3 separate regions of the Homo sapiens genome follow, and regions 1 and 3 are each linked to region 2. The links come from fine-mapping of genetic effects on gene expression. A gene starts in region 2. Each other region holds a variant in brackets. All regions are shown on one strand. Distances are from middle to middle. Region 1 has its middle 83 kb from the start of MANEA-DT. Region 2 holds the start of MANEA (mannosidase endo-alpha). Region 3 has its middle 200 kb from the start of FUT9.

Region 1 (11,116 bases), 84 kb after region 2:
CTTTCTTCCAGAGGATTGAGTCTTTTGTTCCATGTGAGAGAAGATTACAGCTAAGGCTTCCAGCCCTTTCTGAATCACTAAGAGAGTCTTTCTTTAGATTCATGCATTTACCTCAGTCTTTTCTGTGTACAAATTGTGAGGTCCATGAAGTAGAACATACATGTAGGTGCAAACTCTCCTGATGTCCGAGGCTTTGTGGGGTGGGGGTATACTCACATTTGGCCTACACTTGACTGAATACTTTAGTTTGGCAGCCTTATCTTCCACTTGTCCTCTGCCCCAGATAAGCCACTGTCTTGTTACTCATGGAGACAGTTGACTTTCCTTAGATTTCAGGCTGGTTGATGATGACTCTGTGACCTAAGCTATCTGATAGATTTAGCAAAAGGTATAATTTGTTATTTTTTTCTTATTTTCTAATAAGAATAACAATTCTTCCAACTTTCTATGTTTTAAACAGAAGCTGAAAATCAGACATCTTAAACAGAATCTGCATATAATTTGAAGATCAAGCCAAAAGTATTTGTTATTATATTGAAGGTTTGAAGACACATATGAGCCAAGAATGTATAAATATTTTCTAATTATTGCCAATTAGTTCATTATCAGATTAAGTATATTTTATATTTTAGCATAGAAAAAGAATTGAGAAGATGGTTATATGAGAGGAAGGATAAGAAGTTTAAAATGTAGATGATAAGGATGGATAAAAAGCAAAATATGCTAAACTCTCCAGAATTGAAACACTTACGTTACAATATCATTCCATTATTGCAGTATATTTATAAGGATTTATAATGATTGAGAAATAGTTGAGGCTTTGTTTTAAATGAGAAGGCAAGACTAAAGTGTAGAAGACATCAAAGAAGGTAGACATAGGCATGGAGAATTTATGTAACTCTGAATAATCAACATGGATCACACTAGCTAGAATAGAGGACTTTTGTTAGACAACATAAGAGATGAGCCTAGAGAAATACAATAAGAAAAAATTGTGGAAGACACCAACAGCTTTGAGAGCATATTAAGCCTTTTTCTGTAGCTAATGTGAAGTCATTTAAAGCTCATGATCAGAGCAATGTCTACTGTTTACAAAGGCCATAGGAGCGTGATGCTTGAAGAGTTAAGTGGAAAATATAATAAATCATTAAATGAAAGTTTTATCTGAGGCTTATTGCTAACTGGGTGCTAGGCAACATGCAAATATTTTTAAAGCAAGTTACCAAGAAACAGCTAGAGTAACTTTCATCTTTTAGGGGAACATGTAAAAGACCATGCTATTATTTATAATCAAACACTTTCCACGTTTTAAAATTTATAATGGTTACTTTATTCTGATTATTCAATAAATGGACTAAATTATGGTATGTGGAAAATTATTATAATTATATGAACAATGGAATACACTGTACAGTGTAAATCTTTTAACAGATGGATCCTAAAACAAACAAGAAATAACTAATAAGAGATCAATAAATCAAATTGGAAGTTAAACAAAATAATAACAATAGACTTTTGGATAACTAAGAGTTATTGTATGGTAATGTGTCCGAAACTGGTGGGTTCTTGGTCTTACTGACTTCAAGAGTGAAGCCGTGGACCCTCATGGTGAGTGTTGCAGTTCTTAAAGATGGTGTATCTGGAGTTTGTTCCTTCTGATGTTCACACGTGTTCTGAGTTTCTTCCTTCTGGTGGGTTCGTGGTCTCGCTGGCTTCAGGAGTGAAGCTGCAGACCTTCGTGGTGAGTGTTACAGCTCTTAAGGTGGCGCGTCTGGAGTTGTTTGTTTTTTCCGTCCGGAGTTGTTCATTCCTCCTGGTGGGTTTGTGGTCTCGCTGGCCTCAGGAGTGAAGCTGCAGACCTTCGCAGTGAGTGTTACAGCTCGTAAAGGCAGTGCGGACCCAAAGAGTCAGCAGCAGCAGGATTTATTGCAAAGGGTGAAAAAATGAAGCTTCCACACTGTGCAAGGGGATCTAAGTGGATTGCCACTGCTGGCTCGGGCAGCCTTTTATTCTCTTATCTAGCCCCACCCACATCCTGCTGATTGGTCCATTTTACAGAGAGCTGATTGGTCCATTTTACGGAGAGCTGATTGGTCCATTTTGACAGGGTGCTGATTGGTGCGTTTACAATCTATGAGCTAGACACCGAGTGCTGATTGGTGCGTTTACAATCCTCTAGCTAGACATAAAAGTTCTCCAAGTCCTCACCAGATTAACTAGACACAGAGCACTGATTGGTGCATTTACAAACCTTGAGCTAGACACAGGATGCTGATTGGTGTGTTTATAAACCTTGAGCTAGATACAGGGTGCTGATTGGTGTGTTTACAAACCTTGAGCTAGACACAGAGTGGTGATTGGTGTATTTACAATCCTTTAGCTAGACATAAAGGTTCTCCAAGTCCCCACCAGATTAGCTAGATACAGAGTGCTGATTGGTGCATCCACAAACCTCAAGCTAGACACAGAGTGCTGATTGCTGCATTTACAATCCTTGAGCTAGACAAGAAGTGCTGATTGGTGCATTTACAAACCTTTAGCTACACATAAAAGTTCTCCAAGTCCCCAACTGACTCAGGAGCTCAGCTGGCTTTGCCTAGTGGATCCCGCGCCGGGGCCATGGGTGGAGCTGCCCGCCAGTCCTGCACCATGTGCCCGCATTCCTCAGCCCTTGGGCGGTCGATGGGACCAGGTGCCATGGAGCAAGGGGCAGTGCCCGCTGGGGAGGCTCGGGATGCGCAGGAGCCCCACTGCGGGGCAGGGGCTTGGGCATGGCGGGATGCAGGTCCTGAGCCCTGCCCCTCAAGGAGACAGCTAAGGCCCGGCGAGAATTCGAGTGCGGCACAGGTGGGCCAGCACTGCTGGGGAACCCAGCGCACCCTCCGCAGCTGCTGGCCCGGGTGCTAAGCCCCTCATTGCCCGGGGCTGGTGGCGCCAGCTGGCCACTCTGAGTGTGAGGCCTGCTGATCCCGTGCCCACCTGGAACTTGCGCTGGTCCATGAGCACTGGGTGCAGCCCCGGTTCCTGCCCGTGCCTCTCCCTCCACACCTCCCTGCAAGCAGTGGGAGCAGGCTCTGGCCTTGGCCAGCCCAGAGAGGGGATCCCACAGTGCAGCGGCGGGCTGAAGGGCTCCTGAAGCATGGCCAGAGTGGATGCTGAGGCCGAGGAGGTGCTGAGAGGCAGTGAGGGCTGCTAGCACATTGACACCTCTCAGTAATATGGCATTTTAAATCATGCAGAAATTAAGAATTATATAATAATTATTTGCATATTTATAAAAAGGTAATATTACATTACATAAAAAATTCTCAATTAAAAATAAAACAAGCAAAAGCTATAAAAATTGTAAGTTATTTGTATTTTTCATTGTTATGCACATGAAATGATGATTATTATATCAGTGAAATGCAATGAATAAAATGTTAGCTTCAAGAAGGCAAGGCTTTGTTTGTCTTTTCCAATAAATTATTACCTATACCTAGAACAGTTATTGACATAAACTAGAGGCTTAGTGTATGTTTTTTTAATGTCAGAGGGATGTTGAGGAAACCACAAAAGACTGAGAGATTTAAGTACAATAAAAATGAAGGCTATAAAGCAAATTGTATATGATGAATGATGTACAACAAATCATACATAAAAAAATTAAAGGCCAAATAAAAAAAGAGAAACAATTTTATGAGTTGATATCATAATTAAAAAGCACATTAAATCCCTGAGAAATAATTGCATCCCATTAAAATAAAATATAATAGACTATAAACAAACTTTAATAAAGAGAAAAACTTACTGATAAAAATAATTAAAAAGAAGTACATGTATAACAGTGGTATTCAATGGTACAACTGTGAAAAACAGATTTTTACTTCTTAAATATTCAAAGATTTAAAAATTATTATTCATTGTAATAAAGCTATGTAGGAAAATTAATTTAATTTTAAAATTTGCAGTCACAAGTATAAAATATAGGGACAACAGGACAATGTGTGTTAATCATCTTATAATTTTATCATTATATACTATAATTTAACTTTTAATAATTTAAAACAAACTTTTTTTTTTTTTTTTTTTTTTTTGAGACGGAGTCTCGCTCTGTCACCCAGGCTGGAGTCCATTGGTGCGACCTTGGCTCACTGCAAGCTCCGCTTCCCGGGTTCACGCCATTCTCCTGCCTCAGCTTCCCTAGTAGCTGGGACTACAGGCGCCTGCCACCAGGCCCAGCTAATTTTTTTTTTTTGTATTAGTAGAGATGGGGTTTCACCGTGTTAGCCAGGATGGTCTCGATCTCCTGACCTCGTGATCCGCCTGCCTCGGTAAAACAAACAGTTTTTATATAACTATTTAGCCATAGGAAAATGTTTATTTTGGTAGTAGTTAAAATTGTGACGTATTACAGACAGTCTAAGAATCATTAAAATAAAGACTTGGCTAAATAAATTGTGATACATCTGTGAAGAAAAACTGCAGCAAATGTATGTTGGTGTAAACAATAATTTGATTAATGCATTCACATACAACAAGACTCTTAGATATTCATAAATAAAATCAAATCTTATTTTGCCTATGGGACCCATGTGTTTCAAATAATCTCATGAATCTAATATATTCCTTGTTTGATTTCCACAGATACAGAATCTGCTGCTTAGTCTTTTTCTTATGTTATCTTGACAGAATAATCTAAAAATGAATGATATTACAGAGGAACATTGGATAACCATAATCACAATCGGAATACAATACTTTAAATACCTCTTTGAATATTCAATAGACAAAGCAAGGAAAAATAATGCTATAGAATATTTAATTGATGCTATTAGTAATGCTCGTTAACATTCATTGAATAGTGCTCGTTAACTTGAGCTAATAGACAAATAAAACCTGACAACAAAAGATTCGTGCATTATTTTTTTGCTTTCTTTGTAATTAAGGTCTGCTCTTTTCTGTATTATTCCTTTTGTCACTTTCTTGAGTTTATTCTGATGTATATTCTCAATTCCTAATTTGTATATTTCCTTAATTTCAATAATTTTTCTTGTTAAAAATGGAATTTGCTTACTAGTGTTAGATAATGAATTGATTTAGCTACCTTGGAAAATAATTTGCTATATTGAATACTGTTTTAGCTGCACATATTTAAGACTCGGCACTTCTACTTTATCCTAGGAATATACTCCAGGGAATCTCGTACAGGGAATACATACAAGGATATATGCTCAAGGATGTTTATTGTAATTTTGTTTATAATAGGGAAAAGTGAGGAAAAAAACCCAAAATACATCAAAAATGGCAAAATATATTGTATAATTATCACATATTACAAAACTACATAGCAGTAAAAATTAATGACCTAGATTGTCATATGTAGTTTATAAACATGGATTAAAAAGTAAGCAAAATGTTAGGTGAAAAAAGGAAATTCCTGAAAGATGTACAGTATGGTAGGTTATGTGATTTATATACATGTATACAATTATATATAATATATACATATCAAATATATGTCCTATATTTAATACATTATCTGCATGTGTGTGTTGGTGTGTGTATGGTCATACCTGTACAGTAAAACTATTAAAAATTGCTTTGGGTTAATATATGCAAAATTTAGGATGGTTGTCATTTCGAAGTAGGAAATGAAGGAAAGGGATTGGGAACACTAGCAAAGGGAATTTAATACAAATCTGTAATGGTGTTTTATTTTTATTTTAAATAATCAAAATTTAAGATGCAAAAATGTTAATAATTAACCAAATTGAACTGGAGAAACATGAATGTTTCTTATATCATTCTATTTGTTTAGACTTAAAATGGTTCATAATTTTTTAAAAGAAGTAAACAAGGGATCATTGAACATCCTCTTATCCTCTCATATTCTCATTTTTTTTTTGCATTTGAATCATAAGGGAATTGTGATTTTTTTTTTTTACTAGCAATAGAAGTTTTTTCTTTTTTCAATGTTATGCCTTGAAATTTGTGTAGTTGAGATATGCAAGTTAACTTTTAAAATGTGTCTCACCAATGAGAAAGTAGCTTGATTGTAATGCTTGT[C/T]TGAGCTGTAAGCCTTATTTCTAAACCTCAAAAATGGAATTTTAAAAATATTCTGAAGCCTATATTTTCCTTTCAGTAATTTAGGAAAATATCTCTTTTAGAGGATCGTTTATGCTGAACAGAGTATCGATGTAAGTTCTAATACACCAACTTGAACTTACTTGGAAAATATCTTTGAAACAATTGATTATTATCATACCTGAGAAATATCAAAAGTTTTAAAAATATTTTATTATTTGAGAAAAAAGTTCTGTCATCTGTGATAGTTGTGCAATTCAACACAGTTTATAATGATATTTAATTAGCAGAATTTTATATTTGAGAGTTATATCTGAATGAAAATGCAAAATGATACTTAAACAACAAGACTTTCAGAAATAAACCAAATAATTTGTAGGTACACATTAGGATATTTCCACTGTAACTGAAAAATCTAATGCAAATTGGCTTAAATGGTATTTTTAAATATAAAATATAAATCCAAAGGTAAACTCCAAGGGCGATATGAACTTATTTTGAAAATCCCCCAAATCTGGGTTCTTTAATATCCACTCAGTCAACATTAACTTCACCCTGCCCCATTTTCCCATGCTTGCAAGAGATGTTCTGTTTACATTTACTGTGAGGAAGGTAGAGAAACCTCTCCTAAACAAGTGTAAAATAGTAGTTCTCTTCACACTAATTGGGCTAGCTTAGGTCACATGCCCAAACTTGAGCCAGAAACTATCACCAGAGACAGAGGTAAATACATTAGTGTAAAGCTAATGAAGCTTTAGGCCAGAACTTGCATGAACTTTTACTAAGACCTGGAGAGGGTTCCTTAACAGTGTGCTCACATGTTCACATTTTATTTCTTTTTGATGAAAATTGCAAAATGAGTCATTTTAAACTTCAAATAGTTAAGACCTCGGTGTCTCTGAACTCTGACTTACCTTTTCTCACACTATTCTTCATTGCAGATGATGTTCAAGCAGCTTTGAATATTTTGGGAGCTCTTGCTAAGGAGAATTTTGTTTGGGGTTCTCTTAGTTTGGGGTTAATGGGGCATATTTATGTGGTTTGCAGTCAACTTCCTGTTTAGTTGATACAGTGAAGTTTTTGCTAGACTTCTTCTGACTTACTGCCCATTTTGCATAGATTGAATTATGATATTAACATATTTTAACATGTTTGGCACTGGAAAGTTGTCATTAATGATGGAAAAAAAAGATTAAAAATACAAACATAAGGAACTAGCCTGTGGAATACTCTTCCACTATCAGATGAGTAAAATTGTGAGCTGAGGATTCAGTTCTTATCTATAACTTACTAAAATGGAAGATTTTTCTTATTTAAAATACATGTCATACCATAGAATATACAAGTATTATTGAATTATACATTTTTCCCTTTTAACTGGGAATTACATGAAACAAAATTTATCAGAATTCTTCTATTTGTAGGGCACAGGCCAGTAGCAGAAGTAAAAACAAGTTATTAGCAATAATAAAAACTAAAGTTGAATTTAACTTTACTAGATAAAAAGCTGAAGTATTTTTTTTATTCTGCTATAGGCATTGAATCTATAAAACTGTAAGAAGTGGTGATCAAGGGCTATGCATTTTGAAAAGGAGGGAAAATGGGCCAGGCATGGTGGCTCATGCCTGTAATCCCAGCACTTTAGGGAGCTGAGGCAGGAGTATCACTTGAGCCCAGGAGTTTGACACAAACCTGGGACACACAGAGAGACCCTGTCTCTACAAAATTTTTTCAAAATTAGCCAGGCATAACAGTGTATGTGTATAGTCCCAGCTACTCAAGAGGCTCAGGTGGGAGGATTGCTTGCACCCAAGGTGTTGAGGCTGCAGAGAGATATGATTGTACCACCGAACTCCAGCCTGGGAAACAGTGACCCTGTCTAAAAACCAACAATAAAAAAAAAAAGAAAGTAGGGAAAATGTACTGTAGAAATGAACTTCTTGTAGTTCATTAAAGTTATATTATTTTTCTAAATTCTGTTATATTTGTAGTACCTTTAGTCAGCTTTAAAATTTTTAATTTATTATTAATTTTATTTTAAATAAATATTTAGTTGTACCTATTCACAGTTTGTATTGTTTTTTAAAAGAGATCCCCCACATTTTATAGGCTTTTGAGCCCCAAAGAACCTTGCTCCACCTGAACAAAGGAATGAAATGCATAGGTAGACTACATAGGCCAATCAGGATTCTTCTTTGGAAACAAAAATAGGATATGTTACTGAACATGATTTGGGTTATTCTGGAATGGGAGGAAATAGAGGCTGGGTGACCTAATAGGAGTTTTCAAGTCAGGATAAATGAAATAAAATAGATTCAAATGAGTTAATTTACAGTTTTAAAAATACCAGCAAAGTGTAAAGAAGAGGAGAATCTTCCACATGTGTGCAAGAGCAAAGAAGATTCTACATGTTTTATGGCCATATTCCTTCTTCTTTTTTCCTCCAGTCAAAAATATACATTAATGAGAAATGTATAATACATAAGTCTGAGTTTATAAAATAACTAAATAAAAGGAAGTGTTAAGTCAATAATGTAAACATTCTGATTTTAAAAAGAATGCATATCAAGATAATTGACAGAGATAATCTGTTTTCTTTATAAATCTTGTCTCAGCAGAAAACATATGGATCACTGCAAATAGAATAATTCTTGATGTGTTTAGTGACATAGACAAAAGGGAGACTATAAAGGCTACTAAAATAACCTGGAGTCGGCAGCAGCTGACCTGGTACCACCCTTAGACTTAAAGGAGGAAGAGATAGCATGGTTATTGGAACCCAGAGATAGCATGGTTATTGGAACCCAGAGGAATACAATGGCATTTGGGTGATGTTTATTGAAAGGATTAGCTAGTTTGACCTCATTTTGAAAGGGAAGGAAGAAGCCAGGTAATATTCTGACCTTACTCTCTGCTCTTCCTCTTTCTTTCTTCCTCCAAACTGCTATGTTTCTCCGCTGATTGGACTCAACTGGAAGCCAGATGAGTGAGAAACCATGACTGTGTGATTCATACAGATGAACCTCCTGGGTTAGAAAGAAGGACAGATAATAGATATTGAGGAGCAAAATAGCACTAGATTCTAATGAATGAATGATACCCAAACAATTTCAATTTAACTATGTGAGTGAAACAGATTATTTGTGGTAAATAAAAGGTTAAATTCGTTGTGTACTTCAGTTGATTGGCTATCTAATGACATGGAAAATGGATAGTCACATATATTCAGCTGTTCATAAGACAGTTATTTTTCTGAGTTGGGTCACCTGCTTCCAAGAAATATGTATCATCATTCAGATTTCTCTCATATTCATTATTTCTGATGTTATTCCTTTTTCCCATTGACACTTTCAATATTATACATAATTATATTTGAAGAATCTACACAGTTCATTTCACAATTGCATTCATATCAAAAAAAGATACGAGAAAATTCTTTTCGAAGAGAAAAAGAATAGTTTGTTACTTCTTTAGCTCAGTTCCTTAAAGAGATAATAAAAGGAGTACACTATAATTTAAATTTACAGAGTGATTATAAGGAATTTTTAATACAATTATTACATTCACTTGTGCTGTTAAAATAGAACACATTTTAAGAAAAATGTTTAATCTATTTATTTGATTCTTCCCAAATGAAAAGCTCAATCTAGATCCTAAAGCAAGATTTCACATTTCCCCCGATAAGAGAAATGTACAATGAGCTTCAGTTCATTTTATCCAAAAATAATTAAGGAATTATAGATTATACGACAAATGAGATAAATGAGATTCAGTCTAAAGAGTTTCATGTATATGTTAACTGTGTGAGTGTGTGTGTGTGTATATGTGTGTGTGATATATATCTACCACATATGTGGTAGATATATGTGATATCACAAATACCACATATGGGATATCTATACATACATATGTGTATGTATGTGTATGTGTATATATATATATAAATACACATCAAAGGTGGTGTAATCACACATTTAAAAAATACAATGGACTGCTTTCTGTGTTCCTTCGTGAGCACTCATTGGAAGAAAGCTTTTTCAGAGGAAAAAGAAAAAAACCTCTGCCAATTTGTTTATTAATTATCACTGATTGCTTTTACAAACAGTTGTTTTCCTCCATCATTATTTCAGAAGGATTAAATTGTTTTAAGGATATTTTCATCTTCAGCCTTGAAAAAGCTGTAGCAAACAAAATCAGCCCTTTTGGTCCCACTTATATAACTTCACTCACTTTGTGCCACAGCTGAGTCTGGGATCATGTGGCTTCTTGTTCTGGGGATTTCCAGCATTTTTGCCATTATTTAAATAAATGAGGCACTGCTTGTTCATTTCTACCTTCATTCTTACTCCCTTTTCCCTTCTTTCTCTACTTTTATTTTAAACAAATATTTATTGAGCACTGACCCAGGAATGGCTCTGGTGATATGATTGTGACATTATATAGAAGATCTCTTACTTCAAAGCATTTTTATGTCGTGAGGATACGGACAGGTAGAGAGGCAGGTTAATGAAACGTGACAAATACTGTGGTACAGGAAGTTCAGGGTGCTGGGTGCACACATAGCACTCTCCTAACCTAGATTTGGCTTCCTGGAAGAAGTGATATCCAAGTTGAGATTTCAGTGATCAATAATAAGTAAGAATAAGTAATAATCATCCAAAAAGAAACAGCTGACAGGTCAGGGAGGGAATTCCAGGCAGGGAGATCCATATGAACACTAGTGGAGGGGCAGGAAAAGAGAGAGAACTTGAACTAGTTGAATGAGATTTTTAATCTCCTCATTTCATTTTGCAGTGTCAAAGATAACTCATATGATGATTCTATTTCCTGGAAACAGGTTGTGCCACATCTCTTGAAGTCTGTTTCAGGATCTTTAAAGCATATTTTTTTTTCCCTCTAAAGAGTATCCCTTTACAAGCTTTCAGTCTGTAGTAAGCCAATTCTATATGTTTGGGGTGACTAATCATGGTTTGCCATTTTATAATTCCTAACACTGTTCCAAAATCCAGGGCAAAAGCATTGATTACTAAGTTAGTTCTCATCTGAATAT
Region 2 (11,116 bases):
ATATGTATATATGTATACTGTATATACGATATGCATACTGTAAATATATCAAGGCATGCAGGTACATACATAAACGTGTGTATGTGCATATGTACACATACATGCACATATATGTGTATTTACATATTGTGCATCTTATGTTATATATGGATACATGTCATATATATTTAGATATAAATATGTATGATTATATATACATAATTAAATGTATTTAAATTTATAAAACTCTTGGGAAACAATATTAATTACTAAATCTTTTCTGACACTTTACCTGGTATCCTAACTCTTACCCATCCCTGCATTCCATCACATCAGTTCCCTCCCTCTCTAATAAAAAGCTATGTAAATGAACTTTTAGTAAAGGAATAGGTAGACAGGTCTGGAGATTTTGTTTTAATAACTATATACATACTGACAAAATGTTCCTCCAGAAGATATCTAATTAATTACAAATGGGGAAATAATAACAGTGGAAAACCTACCAAAACACCAATTTAAACTAGTGATCAAAATTGACTTTATCAGTTAATTTGGATAAATAAGTATGGCCATTAGTCTTCAGCGAACCCGTACTGAGAAAAACACAGAATCACTGCTGTGGTACTCTTGTTAAAAATTAATCCAGATCTAATCACGAGGAACCATGAGACAATATATTAAAGAGAGGATACACACATATACATAAATACACACATATTCATACATATATGTACACCACATACATACACTATATATAAAATGTATGGCTTACATACAATGCAACGTATAATAAGTAAGGGTATGTGTGTTTGTGTATAATGGTAAGCAAATATGGTAAAATATTACCATATGGTGAATATGCAGGAAAAGTAAACAGAAATTGTTTGTGCTATTTATCCCAGCAGTAAATAGAAGAATGTGAGCTGTTAACATACCTGCTTATTTCTGGAAAGGGCTAAGTCACAAAGTCTTTCAAACCCTGCACTACATGACTCTGTGAAGTGAAATTTCTACATGTGAGCTGTGGCAGTCCTGTTGCACTAACAGGTATAAAAGGATGGGCTGGGCGTGGTGGCTCACGCCTGTAATCCCAGCACTTTGGGAGGCTGAGGCAGGCAGATCACGAGGTCAGGAGATCAAGACCATCCTGCCTAACACGGTGAAACTCCATCTCTACTAAAAATACAAAAAATTAGCCAGGCATGGTGGTGGGCACCTGTAGTCCCAGCTACTCGGGAGGCTGAGGCAGGAGAATGGTGTGAACCTGGGAGGCAGAGCTTGTAGTGAGCAGAGATCGCGCCACTGCACTCCAGCCTCGGCGACAGAGCAAGACTCCGTCTCAAAAAAAAAAAAAAAAAAAAAAAAAAAAGATGATACAACCATTTTGGCATGCCACTGTAATTTGTTGTCCTGAAATTTTCAAATCATTGACATCACAACAAACATTTCCCTTTGATTGAAGAAAGGGAAAATTTTGATGAGACATGAAGCAAAAATAATATTTTGGATGTAATATATCAACTACTATGATATATAATATCATATCTGTATTAAAGATACACATAGAAGGAAATATACTTAAACATGTAAAATAGTTATGTCTGGATGAGACAACAGTGATATTTTCTTACTCTGTTTTCTAAAAGTAGAACATAATACTTCAGAAGGAAAACATTTGGATAGGTATTCTATAAGGAAAAAAACAATGGTAATGAATGTTGGAAGAGTTACAGAGAAAGGAGAAATAACTAACAGATTTATAAATTAGTAAGGCATTCATTTTTGAAACGTTGACTTCAGCTGAATGGCGAGATTCATGAAAGATCAAGATATATAATAAATCTTAAGATGTAAATTCAAATCAGTCACACTTAGTTGTGTGATCCTGGGTAAATCACTTAGCCTTTTCTTAAAAAAGAGGGTATCTGTTTTGCCTACTGATAAAACTATTCTGTGAATCATGCAAGACAATTTGAAACAGTAATGTTTTAATCAAACAGTAAATACTAATGAATTTATAAATAAATGAAAAGTGAAGAAATATTGGAAACTCTAAAAAATTTCTTAGGTTCATTTTCTGGATACACTCATGAATACAAAGCACAAAATGTCCATTTATGGAAGCTGTTTTTTTTTCTCTCTCTCTTGCCTATGAATGTAATTTCTTAAGCTGATCCTCTGTCTTCTCATTTTACATTACTTCATTCATTCAATTAAAATGTGTGTTTATCACATCATTATAGATGACACACAAGCTCAATTTTAAGAGATGATCTGCTGGCTCTGGCTCAACCTCCATGTCTCAATTAAGTCATCTCAACCTAAATAAACACAGATGGGCATTGAGATTTAAAATATGAGCTCTGTAGTTCAAATGCTTGAGCTCAAATTCCAGCTGTGCCATTTTTTAGTTATCTGACCTACAAAACTGACCTGATCTTTCTGAGTTCCTTTCCTCACCCATAGAATGAGTTATTACTTCACTCATAGGATTTTTGTGAGGATGAAATTAGTTAATATTGTAAAACTCTCAAAATCATGTGGCTTAGTATAAGACTAAATAAATGAGCAATTGTTTATGATGATGATTAAAGATGGGTGTCCGACAAGCAATTAAAATATAACACATTTTATTCTAAATGCCTATTCTCTATATGACCAACTATTGAAATACCAGTCACCTTCAAGTCAAAGTTGAAATGCTGCCTCTTCTTGATACCTCTCCTAATTCCACAGTGAAAAGTACTTATTCCTCATATATTTTATTGTTAACAGTATTTACTTTTTAAATTGTCATTTCTTTTTTTTTTTTTTTTTTGAGACGGCGTCTCACTCTGTTGCCCAGGCTGGAGTGCAGTGGCACTATCTCCGCTCACTGCAAGCTCCGCCTCCAGGGTTCATGCCATTCTCCTGCTTCAGCCTCCCGAGTAGCTGGGACTACAGGTGCCTGCCACCACGCCTGGCTAATTTTTTGTATTTTTAGTAGAGATGGGGTTTCACCGTGTTAGCCAGGATGGTCTCGATCTCCTGACCTCGTGATCCACCCGCCTCTGCCTCCCAAAGTGCTGGGATTACAGGTGTGAGCCACCGTGCCCGGCCAAATTGTCATTCCTTATGTATTATATCATGCTGTGCATTTATCTTTATATCACCTACTAGATTGCTCCTTAAGTTTCAGAAATGGAGTCTTTATCTTCACATTCTAGTAGAGCATAACATATCTTTCACATAGTGTTCATTAAGTGTTCAGCTTTAAAAAAGTTAATTTCTGGCTCTTTGCTGTTTCATTGGTATTCAGGCAGTGTGTGTGTATATATATATATGTATATCTGTGTGTGTGTGTATATATAGACTACTGACCGTATACACACTTGATAAGTTTACGGTGTATACTGAACATATTATAAAGAATCGTAAAGATCCAATAATTTTAAAAATCCAATTTAATAAAAAAAATCATCTTCAACGCTGTAAAACCACAATGACCCTTGAGATGCCTAAAATGTCTGATCTTGCAGGAAAGGGGTGGAGGAACTAATTTAGCTTCAATAAAAGAAAAGTATTATAAGTCACCATAGAGAAAATATTACAAGTTTATTGCAGATATATCTTTCCAAGGCAGGGACCTACTCAAAGTATTGGCTACTGAAAATCTGTTTTCTCCTCAAAAGACTGTTTACATTACTCATACACAATAGGTTCTTTTGAACCTGTAGCTTCTATTTTTTGAGTTTTGTGCTTTTAATCCTTTGAAATGCTGACTTGAAGCTTAGTGATGTCTAATAAAAAATTATTGGACATATCCAGCTAGCTAAGAGACCCCAAGAGATTCAGAAGCAGGGTGGTATGAATTAGTACTTCAAAAATTATTTGCTTTTATCATGTAACTCACAAAAGCCAAAAAGACTTCCCTTTCAATTAACTAAATTAAATCACACAGACTTCTGGTGCTTTTTTTAAAAAATATATTGTTTTCTTCTAATTTTATTTTGTATGAAGCCACCGGAGATAAATATAACTCAATACTAGAAGACACATCTGGAACTTTCAAAATCAGTTTCAAAATCAATCCTTGCCCAGGTCAGTTTTATTGTAAACACTTGTACCCTCTGGTTAACAGAAATTCAGTGAGGTTTAGTTTCTGTTTTTTGTTTTGTTTTGTTTTGTTTTTGAGATGGAGTCTCACTCTGTTGCCATGCTGAAGTGCAGTGGCGCCATCTTGGCTCACTACAACCTCCACCTCCCGGGTTCAAGCGATTCTCCTGCCTCAGCCTCCAGAGTAGCTGGGACTACAGGCGCACGCTACGACGCCCAGCTAATTTTTGTATTTTTAGTAGAGACAGGGTTTCACCATGTTGGTTGGCCAGGATGGTCTCGATCTCTTGACCTCATGATCCACCCACTTCGGCCTCCCAAAGTGCTGGGATTACAGGCGTGAGGCACCGCGCCAGGCCGCAGAATTTTTTTTAACCTCATTTTACAAATGATGAAGCTGAGCAGTTGGTAACTTTTTCAAAAATCTCTGGGCCAGCAAATGGCCAAGAAACCAATCTAAGGTTAATCACCTAGCAAGGAGCAGATCGAGTCTGGCTCAAGAACTCAAGTTCTTGTCCATGCTATTCTGCCTTCCTTTAAGGTATTAGACAAATCAAATTTAGAGGATACACCAGTTATTTTTGTGACACAAGATGAAAGCTGCTGCTATATGGTTATGTTTTCAATTAAGGATTATGTACCTAATAAACAATGATTAACTGTTACCTACTCCATAAACTGTGCCCAAACTTCATCTAAAGACAGCTTATTCTATTTTATGATCATACATTCACTATTCGTCACACGAATAACAGCAACAGCTCTGGAAATGGTGTTTTCATTGTTGTGATTTTTTGTTTTGGGGGGTGTTTTTCTGCATTGAGCCTGAAAATCCACAAATTCACAGCACTCATGTTTTTTTCAGGTGTGATACACCTGAAATAGATGTATTGTCATGAAAGTGATTTGCAAACAACGTGATACAGTATCACCAATATCTAGGTTTTACTTTATATTTTTGTTTCAAACTACTGCCTCAATACTTTAACGTGAACAGCCTATTCCAGTCCCATTTTTCTTATTTTCAAGTTCTTAATCAACATTATCCCCCCCTTGTTGTTGTTTTATAGCACTTCCACATTTTCTCCTAACACTTATCCGTAGGGTCTTACAACAACAAAACCAAACAGTTATACCTGCCTGTACTTCAAGTTGCTTCTTTGGAAAAAGGAACAACAAAAACACTAATCCAGCACTGTTGCATCCCGACTTAGCAAAGGCTAAGAGTCTAAGATGACAGTGCCAAACACGTTAACAGGTGAACTGAAAAACCATCTCTAGCGGCCTCGCCATCGGGCGGTCTCCTCCCGATGCCCAGAGGCGACAGCTACCTTTCCGTTGCACCCAGAGCCCAGCAGGCCTCGATCCTTCTACTCTCCCGGTCGGCTCAAGGCCCAGAGGCAGTCTGGGGGCACAAGGAGAAGGTGCTGAAAAAGGCTTCCATCCGACCCGAAATTTCCACCTTGTCGGGGAGACAAGGAAAATCCGAGGCGACAGGAGGTACCGTTTCAAAGAGGAGGCGGCGACGAGGCCAGTGAGGTGGGGATAAAGCAGTGTAAAAGGCAGTAAAACTAACGCAGACTAAAACAGGCCTAAGAGTGACAGCCTAGGTTAATCGAGGGGGCTACAGGCTCGCCGCTGGGCGCCACCAGCGCCTGCCAGAGGGGCGCCGGGTCAAAGGGCGCCCGGAGGAAAGCGGCCACCAGATTGGCTGGCGGGCGAGCGCGCAGGCGCCCGCGGTGGACCTCGTGCCTGCCGCCGCTGCTGGCGCCGCCGCCTCCAAGAGGTCTGACTCCTGCAGCTACTCACCAGGGTCGGGTAATTCACTTCTTGCAAGGACTCGGCCAGAGGAGAGGTTAAGACCGCGAACATAGAGCTGACTGCCGCCGCGCCCCGAGCCCAGACAGCCCCTCCTCCCCGAAGGCGCGCGCACAGCGTTCCGGGCGCTTTCAGGGGCGGGACGGGTGGGGGCGGGGTCACGGAGCGGGCGGGGCTCGGGGTCTTCCGGAGCCTCCGGTCGCGGGTCTAAGAGGACTAGGGCGGGAGCGGCGCGGAAGAAAGAGAGGACTGCGTTTTGGGGCGTTCTGTCAGAGGGGAAGGACGTGTGGATTGGAGTCAGACTGCACTCCCGCCCTATTTCTGCAAGTAGAACTCACTGCCTTTAGAAACGGTCTTCTGAGGCTCTGTTGGGAGGCTCTAACTGTATTACAGAGGACACATTTTTGTTTGTTTTTATGTGAAACATTCAGAAGTTGCTTGCATCAAGTGCTTTACAAGTACACTGGTTTTCAAACTTTTAAAGTTGAGGAACTGTTTTGATTTTTGTAAAAATAGAACTTTACTTGGAAGCCCAAGGTAGGCAGATGGAGATGGCGTTTTTAATTTGCGAATGTATTCTATAAAATCACATCTGTACTGAAGTACTAGAAATAATTGAGGATAAGTCAGATGTGAAGAGCAAGAACTTTTGAAATAGGATTACAACTGAAGGTTTCCATCTTACATTAGCTTCAGAAAACAAGAAAATGCTATCTTTTGTTTGGTTACATAGTAACAGGAAGTCCTTATTCAAGCTAGAACTTGCTGATGTGAACAGTTTCATAAGGGCTCTCCTTAAAAAGATTTTGTACACCAATTTTAATTGGGAAATATACATATGAGTATATCTCATGTGCATATCTTAAAGAAGAATGAAAAATGCCCAGGTACCCACTACAGAGCTTAAGAAAAAAAAAATGCCAGTATTTTTGGAGTCTTCTAGAAAGAAGACTCTCTAAAAACATCTCCTTCCTTCCGTTCACCATTATGCTGAATTTTATATTACTCATTCCGTTGTATTTCTGAAAATAGTTACATATGTACGATTCCCTAAAAATACTATTTTCCTAGTTTTATATTTCATATGTGAATCATTCTTCATTTTTCCCCTTTTTTCACTAATTTAGGTTTTGAGAGGTTTTGAGATTCGTCTGTATACAAGTCCATTTCCCATAAACTAGACTGGCACATCGTTACCCTTATGCTATTGTTAGACTTTTTAAGTTTTTGCTGATAAGAGCATCTGATTGCTCTTTTAATTTGCATTTTCCCTTTTGCTAAAGCCTGTTCTTAATTTTATCTCATTTTTTATTAAATTGCTTGCTTTTGAAAATTATTTTGTAGATAATATTTATTTTTTCTAGTTTAATTCTCTCTTGTAAGTTACATGTGTTGCAAATGTCTTCTCTTAGTTTATGGACTGTCTTTCCAGTTTTTATGATGTTTCTTGATTGCCAAAAGCTTTATGCTTCAGTATACAGCTTTTTGAATTTAATAATATTTTACATTTTAATTTTGTGCTTTTTGCTTTCTTGCTTACAAGATTCTTCCCAACATAACATCAGAAACTATTCTTTCTTCTACAAGTTTAAAAGTTTAATTGTAGCAACTTTAAACACAGAAAGGACAAATAATAATATAATGAACACCCATGCACTCAACTCTATGTATTAAAACATTTTGCAAACCCCTCCTCCTAATGATTCTTGTCTAAAATTGCCTTAACTATACTTGGCTCTTTACTCTTTCATTGAAATTTTAGGATGAGCCAGCCAAGATCCATTTAAAAAATTGGATTTCAATTGGGCATTTTATTCAACTTGAGAATTGCATTTAGAGATTTAGTGAAATGTCTTCTTATCTATGAACATGGTATATTTATTTTATTCAGGTACTTTATGTGCTACTATGCTTTGTAATTTATTGAGTATCTTTCATTATATTGCCTCCTAGTTTTATTACTAAAATTAGAGATCTCTCTCTTTAAACTCTATTTTCTAATTGTTTAGTAACATTGTATTAAAAGAGCATCAATTTCAATATATTGGTACTATCTCCAGAAGCTTCGCTGAATTTTTTTGATTGCTTGCTTTATTTCCCTGTTACATCTTTGGATGACCTATATAGGTAATCATATCATTTGTAAATAAGAATAATGGTTTCCTTCTTTCTCTCTTTTCAAACCACTTATTATTCAGTTTTTTCTTTTATTTATTAACAGAGCATCCAGTGCAATGTTTAATGGAAGTAATAATGGCATTCTTGTCCCATTCCTCACTTTACTGCAATACTGCTAACATTTTATAATGATAACAATGTTTGCTGTGGGTTTTTGGTAAATACTTTATCAAGATTATTAAGTGTTCTGTTTCCAGTTCATAATGTATTGTTGTTTGCTTTTTTTTAACCATGAGTGACAGTTTAATTGATTAAATGCTTTTTCTGCACCTATTGAGATAATCATTGTTTCCTATTCTAATATATTTATGGGAATGATTAATACATTTTCTGATGTCAAATGAGAGGGAGAGGATTTTATTTTATAAATATGTTAATGCATGCTCACTTGCTTAAAAACTGGGTACTTTATGACTGCCAGTGTAAATAAATTAGGCAAGTAGATTCTCATTGCATCACACTCTATTCATTGCACAATGGTGTTTATAAACTGGATTAGAATTGCTGCTAGTGCCTCATCTTGTAACTCTGACTGCTCTACCTATCCCCTGCTATTGTCAGGGAATGTTGAGATGGCAATGATAGAAATAATGTTGTTAATATTCTTTTTTTCTTTCACATCACTTTTTTTCACAGTGTTTTTATGTAGAATTTTTTTTTTTTACTTGACATCACTGGAAAGTCAGCAATGTTTTGTTGTAATTATCACATATAGAATGTTATTACATTCTGAATCTTGATTTTGTTTTCAAATATGGGATGGCCATAATAACTGCCACATCCAATTTTTTTATCTCTCATATATACATATAGATTTAATTAGTTCAATAATTTCCTGAATGTAAACAATGTAGAATTTAGTAAATTAATAAGCACTGATGGGAAAGGTCTCCAAGATAAATGAGCAAGTGATTAGTATGTTAATACTTACAAGAGAAATTCACATTATATTAATATAAATTTTAAATATATATGTGCATGTATGATATATAAAAATATCTGAAAGGATATATGCATTGTTACCTATAGGGATGTAACAGAAGGGGAATGAAGGAGAATTTTCTTTTTTACTCTCTGTAGTGCTGTTTTCTTTTTTAATGTGAGCCCATATTTATGTATTTTTTAATTAAAAATACAGCACCAGAAGAATATGCCATTTATCTAATAGATGGTTTCTTGGAAAGAAAAAGAGCTGCATATAAATTCATTTGTGTAGTAAATAGACATTTTAAATGTGTTGCATCAGGGGTAATCAGTCACTGAGAGTCCAAAGACAAAAATGATCCAAAGAAGGAAGAATGGAGAAAAAAAAAATCCCCCATTTTTTTTTCTTTTTTGTCAAATTCTTGTATGGAAAGATTCTAACACAATAAACTAATAGTAGCCTTTGGTTTATCCTAATTAGCATTTATTAAAATCATAGTCCCCACCCCACAAGATCCTTCAGGTTAATCCTATCTTGCTACTAGAAAAGCGGCAGCCATTTATCTTATCTTTTGGCATCAGCATTGAAGAGTCTTCTTTGTATTTCCCAGACCTAAGCAGTTACACCTTCAACCATCTTTTTCTTGCCTCTATTTCAATGGGCCCTATTGTTTGTCTCCTGATTATTTCATGTCTATTTTTCCCTGTCCTAGAAGTTTCATTAGTATTTCCTAGCCATATGCCATTTATACCTTTGCTCATTACTCCTGTCACTGAAGATGAGAAATCAATTTCTGTCCATATCCTCTCCACTTACATTAATCAGAGATATATTTTGTAAGCAATAGAAATTGAATCTGGCAAACCTGAAAACAAATAGACTATGTAAAAAGTTACAGAATTTAGCATGAAGATGAAGGCTAGTACATTAGGTAATGGCAATGGATAGGAAACAAGAGGGGCTAGGAAATTGGGAACACAGCCTCATATAACAGTACAGATTAGGGCACTGCTGCTTTCAGGGCTGCACTGATCTCAAAGCTGCTGACACCACTATGAGTGACTTCTCAACTCTGTGTTGTCTACCTCGTTGCTTCAAGATTCAAATTTTGGATTGAGATCATTTGATTAGCTTACTCTAGGCTGTATGTCTTTTCCTCCTTAGCCTCCTTGAAGTAGAGCCCAGAACTTTTGGCTTTAATGGGAAATTGGGCACAAAACACAGAATACATTATTCTTCCAAAACCTGAAGGATTTTTAGATTCTAAGTAGTAACAAAATAAAATAAACTAAATCCCCAAACAATAGTCCAATTATCCATCACAGTATGCTTCACTGTCCATATAAAGTCTACTTTCTCCCTTACTATTTTATACTTACTGTTTTATTCTTTTAATCCCTATACATTTATAGGGAGTAATATGAAACAGCAATAATTTCTTAATTAACTAAATTGTTCTGTTCTTTTTATCATATCTGGTATCTGTGAAGGTGTAACTAAGGTATTCCTTGACACAGTTTGGGATGCAAAGAATGTAACTCCAATAGTGCCATGAGTAAAACACTAAAGTTTCCACCAATTTATAGCAGTAGATAATTCAGAGAGCCAAACTCATTGTTTCCCCTAATGCTCTGATCCTTTCACTGTACCTACCAGCATCCTGACAGCAAGGAATCCATTCTAACTCTATCCCACATAAATTCACGAACTATTATCAGACCAAGGAAAAAACTTGCCTTGGTAGGTCATGATTAAAATTCACTGGCCTCGTAGTGGTCACAGGTTTTAGGGTGACTTCTTGATGCATTAGATAAGGCTCTTCTAAGAATTGATGTACATAACCCAGAATTAAACTCAGTGTAGGTAACTTCTAACTAAACAGGCCAAGCCCCTTTGGTGAAAGTTTTTCTCATTCTCTGATCCAAGTACTTGCCCAGGTGATGGCCCTCCTGAGTGACAGAGATGGGAGAGCGTTCTGCCTTCCCAAATAAAGAAGGCAGAAAGTTCACCTCTGGTTGAATGGTGCTGTTAAATGCTAATGCATTGATTGACTATATATGGAACATTTCTCCTTAAGGAAACCCTATCCTGAAGGAAACCCTATTCTGCAAACAGGCATGG
Region 3 (11,116 bases), 240 kb before region 2:
TCCCTTCCTATTTAGCTTAATAACTAACCTCCAGAATTCTTTTTCAGGTAAATCAGGGATTTCTTCTTGGTTTGGATCCATTGCTGGAGAACTAGTGTAATAGTGTAATTTTGGGTGGGTGATGATAAGTCTTGTTTTGTCATATTACCAGGGTTGGTTTTCTTGTTCCTTCTCATTTGGGTACGCTCTGTCAGAGGGAAGGTCTAGTGCTGAAGGCTGTTGTTCATATTCTTTTGTCCCACGGGGTGTTCCCTTGATGTAGTACTCTCCCCCTTTTCCTATGGATGTGGCTTCCTGTGAGCCACACTGCAGTAATTGTTGTCTGTCTTCTGGGTCTAGCGGTCCAGCAGTCCAGCGATCGTACCAGGCTCCAGGCTGGTACTGGGGGTTGTCTGCACAGAGTCTTGTGATGTGAACTGTCTATAAATCTCATTGCCTGTTCCAGTGGAGGTGATGAGGGGTGCAATGGACTCTTTCAGGGTTCTTAGCTTTAGTGGTTTAATGTTCTGTTTGTGCTGGTTTTGTGGTCTAATGTTCTTTTTGTGCTCGTTGCCCTCCTGCCAGGAGGTGGCGCTTTCCAAAGAGCATCAGCTGTGGTATTAGAAGGAGGAATTGGTGGTTGGCAGGGCCCTAGAACTCCCAAGATTATATACCCTTTGTCTTCTGCTACCAGGGTGGGTAGGGAAAGACTATCAATGAGGCAGGGCTAGGTGTGTCTGAGCTCAGACTCTCCTTGGGCAGGTCTGGCTGTGGCTGCTGTGGGGGATGGGGGTGAGATTCCCAGGTCACTGGAGTTGTGTACCTAGGAGGATTATGGCTGCCTCTGCTGAGTCAGGCAGGTTGTCAGGAAAATGGGGCAGAGCCAGCAGTCACAGGCCTCACCCAGCTCCCATGCAAACCAAAGGGCCAGTCTCATTCCCACCGTGCCTCCCCCAACAGCTCTCAGACCATTTCCAGGTGGAGAGCAATATGGGTTTGAAAACCTGCCCCAGACTATCCACCTCCTATCTGTGAAAGAAAAGCACTTAGTACTTTCTCTGCCTGTGAAGTCTGCACACCAGATTAGCACCCTCCCACCGAGTTCTCACCAGGAGACTTATCACCCCGTTCAAATTGTTAACAAGTTCAGCTACATATTTGTTTCTCCATGTTTAGTTTTACCCCCTGCTCCTCTCCGGATGGATCCTTGTGGTGCCAGGCAGGAATGGCCTGCTAGGGAACCCAAAAAGCTCCCAGGGCCTTTCTGTTTCTACCTCTACCCCTGTATTTCACTCAGCTTTCCAAATTGACTCAGCTCCAGGTAAAGTTGGAAACTTCTCCTGCAAACAGGCCTTCAGCTTCTCCAATTAGGGTGTGTATTTGGGAGAGGAGGGTCACCCTTTCCCACTTCCACAGTTGAGGCACTCAGAGTTTTGCAGGAGATGGAGGGGGGTCTCCTGTGTACTGCAGGAGCAGTCTGCTTCCTTCAGAGGGTCTGTGGGTCCTCTCAGGATTGCTGGTCTATTTTTTGACTTTTTAATAACAGTTCTGACTGGCATGAGATGATATCTCATTGTGGTTGTGATTTGCATTTCTGTAATGATCAGTGAGTTTGAGCTTTTTTTCATATGTTTGTTTGTTGGCTGCATGTATGTCTTCTTTTGAGGACGGTTTGGTCATGTCCTTTGCCCACTTTTTAATGTGGTTGTTGTTTCCTTTAAATTTGTTTAAGTTCCTTGTAGATGCTACATATTATACCTTTGTTAGAGGGATAGATGGCAAAAGTTTTCTCCTTTTCTGTAGGTAGTCTTTTTACTCTGTTGATAGTTCTTTTGCTGTGCAGAAGCTCCTTAGTTGTGAATTGGAGTTCATTCATGATTAGGTCTCTGCTTGTCTGTTGTTGGTGTATAGGAATGCTTGTGATTTATGCACATTGATTTTGCATACTGAGACTTTGCTGAAGTTGCTTATCAGCTTGAGAAACTTTTGGGCTGAGACATTGGGATTTTCTAAATATAGGAGCACGTCATCTGCAAGCAAAGATAGTTTGACTTCCTCTCTTCCTATCTGAATACGCTTCATTTCTTTTGCTTGCCTCATTGCCCTGGCCAGAGATTCCAATACTATGTTGAATAGGAGTGGTGAGAGAGAGCATCCTTGTCTTGTGCTCATTTTCAAGTGGAATGCTTACAGCTTTTTTCCCATTCAGTACGATACTGGCTGTGTGTTTGTTGTATATGGCTCTTATTGTTTTGAAGTGTGTTCCTTCAATACTTAATTTATTGAGAATTTTAAGGGACGTTGAATTTTATTGAAGGCCTTTTCTGCATCTATTGAGATAATCATGTGGTTTCTGTCTTTAGTTCTGTCTACGTGATGAATCACTTCTATTGATTTGCATATGTTGAACCAACCTTGCATCCCTGGGATGAAGCCTACTTGATCGAAGTGAATAAGCTTTTTGATGTGCTGCTGAATTCAGTTTGCCAGTATTTTGCTGATTTTTGCAGCGATGTTCATCAAGGATATTGGCCTGTAGTTTTCTTTATTTGTTGTATCTCTGCCAGGTTTTGGTATCAGAATGATGCTGGCCTCATAGAATGAGCTAGAGAGGATCCCCACCTTTTCAATTTTTTGGAATAGTTTCAGTTGGAATGGTACCAGCTCTTCTTTGTACCTCTGGTAGAATCAGCTGTGAATCTGTCTGGTCCTAGGCTTTTTTTTAGTTGGTAGGCTCTTTATTACTGCTTCAATTTCAGAACTCATTATTGGTCTATTCAGGGATGTAATTTCTTCCTGGTTTAGTCTTGGGAGGATGTATGTGTCCAGGAATTTATTCATTTAGATTTTCTAGTTTATGTGTATAGAAGTGTTTATAATATTCTCTGATAATTTTCTAGCTTATGTGCATAGAGGTATTTATAGTATTATCTGATAGCTGTTTGTATTTCTTGGCGGGGGGGTCAGTGGTGATATCTTCCTTATCATTTCTAATTGTGTTTATTTGAACCTTCTCTCTTTTCTTCCTTATTAGTCTACCTAGCAGTCCAGAAAAACTGAGGTTGAAAAAGTGTCCCTCCCTTATTGGCCAGATGGTTTTAATCTGTAGCAGCAGCCTGGATTATCTGTCACTAAAACAGGTGGAGCTTCTCCTGCATTTCCAAAGCTGTGCACCACCACGAAATTATTAATTGATTTAGTATTTCTAAAGATCCATGTAGTCAACAAATCTATTAAGGAATCCAAATACCAATTGTACATCAATAAAATTTAGAAAACACCAAGTTGTTATAAGTTTAAAATCAATGTACCAATTTTCTCTACCTTACTCCTCAATCAAAAGTAGTGTTCCCAGAACTGTAACATATAGATCTATACTGATTTGCTAACCATAACCCATAGCAAAGAATTAACATTATGGATAAAAGGACTACATGGAAAAGGAAAACAAAGTTTTAGAAAGGAAAGATACATTTCTTGATTTTGTTCTCTAGTTTGCATTAGTTGATGCTGGTGATCTACAACCCACAATGGGTTATTATGACAACATGCTTTACATTTTCTGGAGGAAATAACTTTCATTTATAAAATGAGTTTCTCTGCCAGAAATTGGAACCCAAATCACCTCTGGCTTTTTGCGTATTGAGACATTTGCACTACAGGCCTCTAGATTTTCCCTTTTAGTTTCAATTTTCTCCTCTACCCCAACCTTAGCAATTTCAGTGGGGCTTTTTCTGTGAAGAATCTGAGCATAGGCCCAAGTGTCACAACATCTTAGGTATCCACTGTGTGTGACCTGAAACAAATTATAACAACTTTATTAACTCCAGTTCACTCATCTATTAAAAGATCATAATAATAGCACTCTATCTCACATGGCAATGTTAAGGATTTAATGAGATAATATAAGTAACATGCCTTGTGCAGGGCCTGACACACAATAAGTACAGGGCATGTTTTTAATAGGTCACTGTCCAAACACATATCCTGATCTTGAGGGTCTTCTGCTCTTCTCTTTTATGCTTCTTCATCTTTAGCAGAAGGTAATGGGGCCCTAGGGCAAGAGGATCTCACAGATGATAAAATACGGAAAAGAGATTGGGTGAATTTAGGAATGATAAAGACATCAAATGTGTAGCACCATAAAGGGTCATCAAGAGCTGTGTCATAGCTACATACATTATGCTATGATTTTCTTTTATGGAATGGTCACAAATTCACATGGTTCCCCAAGGTCTGGCATTTGATTACACATTGTCCCAGTAAATTTTGTACTCCTCTATGCTTTGTTTACCCTAATAAGATTGGAAGCTATTTGAAAATAGGATCGTAGCATCTTGAGTTCTTTTATAATTTGTACCTTCAATATGTAATATAGTACAGGACACTTAATCTTCACTTTTTTGTTGGTTAACTAATGGAGAAATTAGATATGATTGTGTTGTTCCTCTGTCAACTATGAACTTATAGGTAAAATCTTGTGGAGAGAGAAGACACAGAAATATATAAGAAATGGCGAATTCAATGAAATGTGTAATTATGGATTTAGAGTAACATTGACATTATAATCCTCTTTATTCACACTTTTAACCCAATTTGGAGTTGTTCTTCAGATATTGTTATAGTATCATAATTTTATCTAAATTAAAACATCAAAAAATGATTGGGCATCGAATTTTTATGAATATTCGAAGTCAAAATGATAAGCATATTTTCAATGTCTTGACCACAGGCAAGACAAACACTGAAATCCATAGTTGATTAAGGCAATGTTTATGGAATCGTATCTATTAGATCAAGTGTGCTCACTTCTTGGTTATGAAAGTACATTGTAATGTTTAACAGTTCTGTCTTCTTTTGCTTGTGACTCTATCAGTGAAACTATTTACATGTGACATTTACTTTTTATTATATAAAGCTCTTGTATTTTAGTATTGTCTGTTATTATTCACAAAGAAGGGAAAAATTGGTGTTTGCGTAGTATAGCTGGAGTCCAATACTTCAGTTTTGTTTCAGTTAAATAAACAGTTCCATTCATAAAGATTCTTTGGTTCACCTTCAGTGATCCCTCCCTTGGCAGAGTGCTGCTATCACACTATTTCCACATGTTCTCAGGCAAAGAGAACACAGTTCAACTTCCATGCCACTGGGTCACTGGTTTGGGGGAAAAGTCAACACATGTTAGGTGAACTCTGCACACTCACTTGGCCCTGGAGAACACAATGAACCACACTTGGTCTCTTTTCAGAAAGCAGTGGAGGAGGTAGACAGGGAATCAGACTTATAAATGTCCAACTGTCCTCACAGCTGTATCTTCATAGTC[TA/A]ATAATCATGCATACATATTTATTAATGAGAGAAAGGAGATGATTATAAAAAGATTTATAAATAAGCACTCAATTAAAATATTGTGACTGCAGGAGAAATTAAACATGGGGTCTTAGGGCTAAATGCATTTTTCCTGCCACTGTTATTTAGCTTCTGTTTTATTAAAATACTGTTTTATTTCATAGTTAATAAATTATAGTTATATCTTTAACTAATATGGAACATTTTTATTACGTATTATTATAAAATAATAATTTAGAAAAATTATAATGATATGTGATCTTTACTAAGTACTTTCTATCTACCAGTGATTGTGCTAAGGACTTTATAGTACTTGTTTAATTCATTTACATATAAAATATGTAATACAACTGAATATGATGATAAGAATGGATGAAAAATATTGTGAACAGAGTAGGTGAAGTGGTAGGTATTTAGACAACTATACATGGAGAAAAGATGGATCAAAATGGAAAGTGATTTTTTTGGCCATCCCAGAAGAAGAAAACCAATACCAACCCCCAATAAAGTAAATGCGTGCTCCTCCCTGTCAAGGACCTGGAGAAGTCTGGCAGTGTGTGTGGCTTCACTACATAGTAACTCCTACCTCTCGGGAAGGTGAGGGTGGGAGTGGGCTGTTGTGATCACAGCTGAAGTAATGCACAGAAGGATGAAGATCCATCCTAAGGGATAAATAGTTTTCAAACCACAGGTAGAGCTGAGATGGTTTTTCCAGCTGTTTCTGAGACTTTGCATATCCATAGACTCTGGGTAGAGCTAAGAAACTGAAAAAAACAACACATGTGCCCACCAATTTCCCTCTTCTGGCCTAGAAAAAGGAATAAATGTCAATGGTTGCAGATGAGGTGAGTGCACTTTGAAGACTAAGGTCACTCAGGAATCCTAAATATTTATATGCACTCTACACATTTAATGTTTAATATATGCAAGTAATCTATATTTTGTTAATTATATTTCTTAATATTGCATCATCACAACAGTGCTTGAAACAATTTTAGATAGTCTCAGAAGTGCTGAGAAAAGAAAATATATCTCCAGTAAGATTCTATAAAGCCAATTATCAGGAGAATTCATAAAAATGGCCTAGGTTAAGATGCTATATATATAATGTAAACATATTTTTAGAAGGCACTTGCATATAGTCTACTTCTAGATAACCCAACTGACTGTCCTTATTTTTAAAAAAACACTTAAGTACTTGAAGATTAAGACAAATAAATCTAGTCTATGATGTATAGCTTTTAGTTCATAAACTATCAATTTTGTCTTCTAGAGACATATTTGTTGTTCTTTATAATAAGGCAGTCTTAGAATTAGAAAACTCTACTTAATTAATCTCAATTGGAGTCCCTCTGATAAATATATAGACTAGGAAATAGTCTAAGCACCTAATAATGATTTCTAACATCTGAAAGAAAATAATTTCAATGCATAATAAAATATGATGGTTTTATGAAACAACTATGAAATCAGATCTTTTGCAATAAAATAAGAATATTAAAAAATAATTTTTAGGGGTGTTATCCTATGTCACAATGTAAAAACTTGTTTAGAAAGCTAACATAGAGATTTCTAATTATAAAAACTTGGAATAGATATCTTCTTTCCTGCCTTTCTCACTAAGTACAGCTAAAATCCCTGGACTTTATACATATTACAGACTTAAGAGGGCTGTGAAATATGGAGAGAAGGAAGATACTCTAGGGATCTTGGAATTAGGAATGACATAGTAGTGCCTTCCCTGGGTTTTGCTTTTGCTATGCCAGATTTGATTCTGCAGAAGCCAGCAACCCAGAAACAACAACAAACACAAACAAAATAAACCCCAAGAAAAGCTCACTCTCTCTAACCTAAGGACCAGGAAAGGGGCAGCCTAACAATACAGAAAATTTTTACACAATAGTCACCCTATGAAAGCAATATATCACAGAAAAAACCATGACCCCACTCCCACCCCCCACTGACAATGGCTGAATCTGGAATCTACATGTCCACTCTATCTATAGTGAAATGAGGCACCTCTTTATCCCACTTCCACCTGGCCAGTGTGGTGTCAGAGAAAGCTAAATGGAAAGCCCAGAGCTTTATCCCAACAGGGCAGTAAAGAAGCCCTTCCCTGGTCTCCTGGAGTATCAGTGGAGACCACATGGGAGAGTCTGGACTTCCACTCCCATTGAGGATAAAGAAGTACCCACCTCCTCCTCCTAGGGTAGTATCAGAGGAGATATAATGGAGAGTCAGAACTTTTATCACCACTAATAATTAACTAGAACAGCCTCTCACCCTTTCAGACATCTACCCCTAACATGTCAGTAGAGGCCACATGGCTAAGAGTAGCAGAAACCAGACACCCTTGCTTTCCCAGTCATGATCGTGTCAGCAGATGTCTACTGGAGAGCTTCAACTATCATCTCTGCCAAGCAGTAGTAAGAAACTCCTTGGGCCTGGCGCAGTGGCTCACGCCTGTAATCCCAGCACTTTGGGAGGCCGAGGTGGGTGGATCATGAGGTCAGGAGATCAAGACCATCCTGGCTAACACGGTGAAACCCCATCTCTACTAAAAATACAAAAAATTAGCCAGGTGTGGTGGCGGGTGCCTGTAGTCCCAGCTACTCAGGAGGCTGAGGCAGAAGAATGGTGTGAACCCGGGAGGCAGAGCCGAGATCGCGCCACTGCACTCCAGCCTGAGCAACAGAGTGAGACTCTGTCTCAAAAAAAAAAAGAAAAAAAAAGAAAGAAACTCCTTGGGCGTAAACAGATAGTGAGTGAGTAACCTGGATTTCCACTGTCACTGGCAGTACTGTTACTCCCATGGGAATGGTGGCAGACGAGGCCTGTTAAAATAGATTTAAATAAAATACATAGCCTCATAATATAATACCAAAAACATATAAATTTCTATTAAAAATCACTTCCCATACCAAGAACCTGAAAAATCTTAACTTCAAGGAGAAAAAACAATCCACAAATGCCATTAGCTAGATGATGCAGATGTTAAAAATATCTGGCAAGGACTTTAAAAGCAGTGATCATAAAAATGCTTCAATGAGCAAATGTGAACTCGTTTGAAACAAAATATGGAAAGCAAGGGGAGAAGACATAAAGAACAAAATGGAAACTCAAAATTTAAAAGTGTAGTAACTAAATTGAAAACCCTCTAGATGGGCTCAAAAGAAGAATGAAAATAAAAAAGAAAGGAATTTGTGAATTTGAATATAGAACAATAGAAATTACCCAATATGGACAATAACGAGAAATTGAACGTAATAAAGTTCAGGGATGTGAGGAATTGTAGCAAAAGATTCAACTTCTGTGTCATTGGAGTCCTAAAAGGAAGGGATATTGAATTTATAACTTTAAGACTTTTAAAAAAAGAAGGTTTCCAGGACCAGATGGTTTCACTGAAGAATTCCACCAAAGGTTAAAGAATAATTAATATAAATCTCTTTCAGAAAACAAAGAAGAAAACTTTTCCCAACACATTTGATGAAGTTGATATTACTTAGATATCAAACCAGGGAAAGGCAATATGAAAAAGAAAATTACAGACTAATATCCTTCATGAATATGGACATAGAAATTCTTCATAAAATGTTAGAAAATAGAATTCTGCAATATGTTAGAAAATTATGAACCATGGCCAAATGAGCTTTATTTCAGAGATGCAAGACTGATTTTAAAATCAATCAATATAATCCATTATATAATAGGTTAAGAAGAAAAATCAGAATAAAATGATCATATACATTGATGCAAAAAAGTTATTTGACAAAATTCAACATCTTTTATGGTATAATCTCCCAGAATAATGTGGAATTTATTCAGCTTGTTGAATAACATCTACAAAAAAACCTTCAGCTAACCTCATACCTATTAATGAGAGACCGAATGCCTTTTCTCCTAAGATTGGGAACTAGACAGGTGTCTGCCTATAACATTCTTACCCAATGTGGTACCAGAAATTCTAGACAACAAATTAACACACAAAAAGGAAATAAATGGGATATAGATCAGAAAGGAAGAAATAAAATAGTCTCTATTTACAGATGACATAAATTTACATAGAAAATCCCAAGGAAACTATGAAAAATTCATAAAGTGAGTACAATAAAGTCACAGGATACAAGTTTAACATAAAAAACACAATTGTATTTCTGTGTAAGCTCAATGAACAAACACATACACATCTAAATTAGAAATGCAATGTCATTTATAATCACTCAAAAAATGAAATACTTACATGTAAATCTAACAAAATATACGTGACTTGTTTGTTAAACTGCACAACACTGAAGAAGACATTAAAGAAATTCTTAATAAATCAAGAAAAATGCCATGTCCATGGATTGGAAGACTCCACATAGGAAAGATGTAATTTTCCTGTATATTAATGTAATTGTTATAAAAATTCCAGCAATATTTTGTGTAGATATAGAAATGTTATTAAAAAGTTTACATGAAAAGACAAAGGGTCTAAAATAGCTAAAGCAATTTTTAAATAGAAGAATAAAATGGGCGAAATCAGTCTACAAAATTCCAAGTCTCAGAATCGTGTCATCTGCAAACACAGATAGTTTGACATTTTCTCTTTCTATTTGGATGCATTTTCTTTCTTTCTTCTGCCTGATTGCTCTGGCCAGGACTTCCAGTACTATTCTGAATGGGGGTGGTGAAGGAGGGCATCCTTGTCTCCTTCTAGATTTCAAGGGGAATGTGTCCAGATTTTGCCCATTCAGTATGCTGTTCACTGTGAGTTTGCAATAGATAGCTCTTACTGTTTTGAAGTATGTGTCTTCAGTGCCTAGTTTATTGAGTATTTTTAACATGAAGCGATGTTGAATTTGATCAAAAGCCTTTTCTGCATCTATTGAGATAATCATATGGTTTTTGTTTGGTAGTTCTGTTTATGTAATGAATCATATTTATTGATTGGCATATGTTGAACCAAACTTGCATCCCAGGGATAAAACCTGCACGATCATGGTGGATTAGTGTTGTGATGTTCTGCTAGATTCAGTTTGCTAATATTTCATCAAGGATTTTTGCATCTATATTCATCATGGATATTGGCCTGAATTTTCTTTTTGTTGTTGTTGTGTCTTTGCTAGGTTTTGGCATCAGGTTGATGCTGACCTCATAGAATGAACTGGGTAGGAGCCTTAGTCTCTGCCCACCCAAAAGCTCCTTGATCTGATTAACAACCTCAGCAAAATTTCAGAATACAGAATCAATGTACAAAACTTAGTAGCATTCCTATATACCAACAACATCCAAGTTGAGAGCCAAATCAGACATACAACAATTGCCACAAAAAATACCCAGGTATATAGCTAACCAGGGAGGTGAAAAATCTCTACAGTGAGAATTATAAAACACTGCTTACAGAAATCAGAAATGACGAACAAATGGGAAAACGTTCCATGATAATGGATAGAAAGAATTAATATTGCCAAAATGGACATATTGCCCAAAGCAATTTATAGATTCGATGCTATTTCTTTTAAACTACCAATGACATTCTTCATAGAATTAGAGAAAACTATTTTAAAATTCATATGGAACAAAAAAAAAAAAACCTGAATAGCCAAGTCAATGCTAAGCAAATGGAAGAAAGCTGGAGACATCACACTACCCAACTTCAAACTATGCTACAAGGCTACAGCAATGAAAACAGTGGTTACTGGTACAAAAAAAGACACACAGACCAATGAAACAGTATAGAGAGCCCAGAAATGATGCTTCACACCTACAATTATTTGATCTTCAACAAAACTGATGAAAACAAGCAGTG

What was found. PIP is the estimated chance that this variant, and not a neighbour inherited with it, causes the effect.
Region 1: its variant is fine-mapped to the expression of MANEA in tibial artery (GTEx, PIP above 0.99).
Region 3: its variant is fine-mapped to the expression of MANEA in lymphoblastoid cells (GTEx, PIP above 0.99).

Annotation. Positions count from the first base shown.
Region 1 is chr6:95,488,868-95,499,983 of GRCh38, reverse strand. No RefSeq gene overlaps it. Among named protein-coding and RNA genes, the nearest start is that of MANEA-DT, 83 kb to the left of the region's middle. The variant C/T (reference allele first, on the strand shown) is at 6,049.
Region 2 is chr6:95,572,406-95,583,521 of GRCh38, reverse strand. MANEA (mannosidase endo-alpha) reads right to left here and starts at 5,987. Exons shown (of 5, transcript NM_024641.4): 1 at 5,884-5,987. It overlaps MANEA-DT (MANEA divergent transcript), which reads left to right and starts at 6,071. Exons shown (of 3, transcript NR_104136.1): 1 at 6,071-6,429. RefSeq lists enhancers at 5,388-5,487, 4,951-5,891 and silencers at 5,688-5,747, 6,028-6,117, 6,168-6,247.
Region 3 is chr6:95,809,598-95,820,713 of GRCh38, reverse strand. No RefSeq gene overlaps it. Among named protein-coding and RNA genes, the nearest start is that of FUT9, 200 kb to the left of the region's middle. The variant TA/A (reference allele first, on the strand shown) is at 5,303.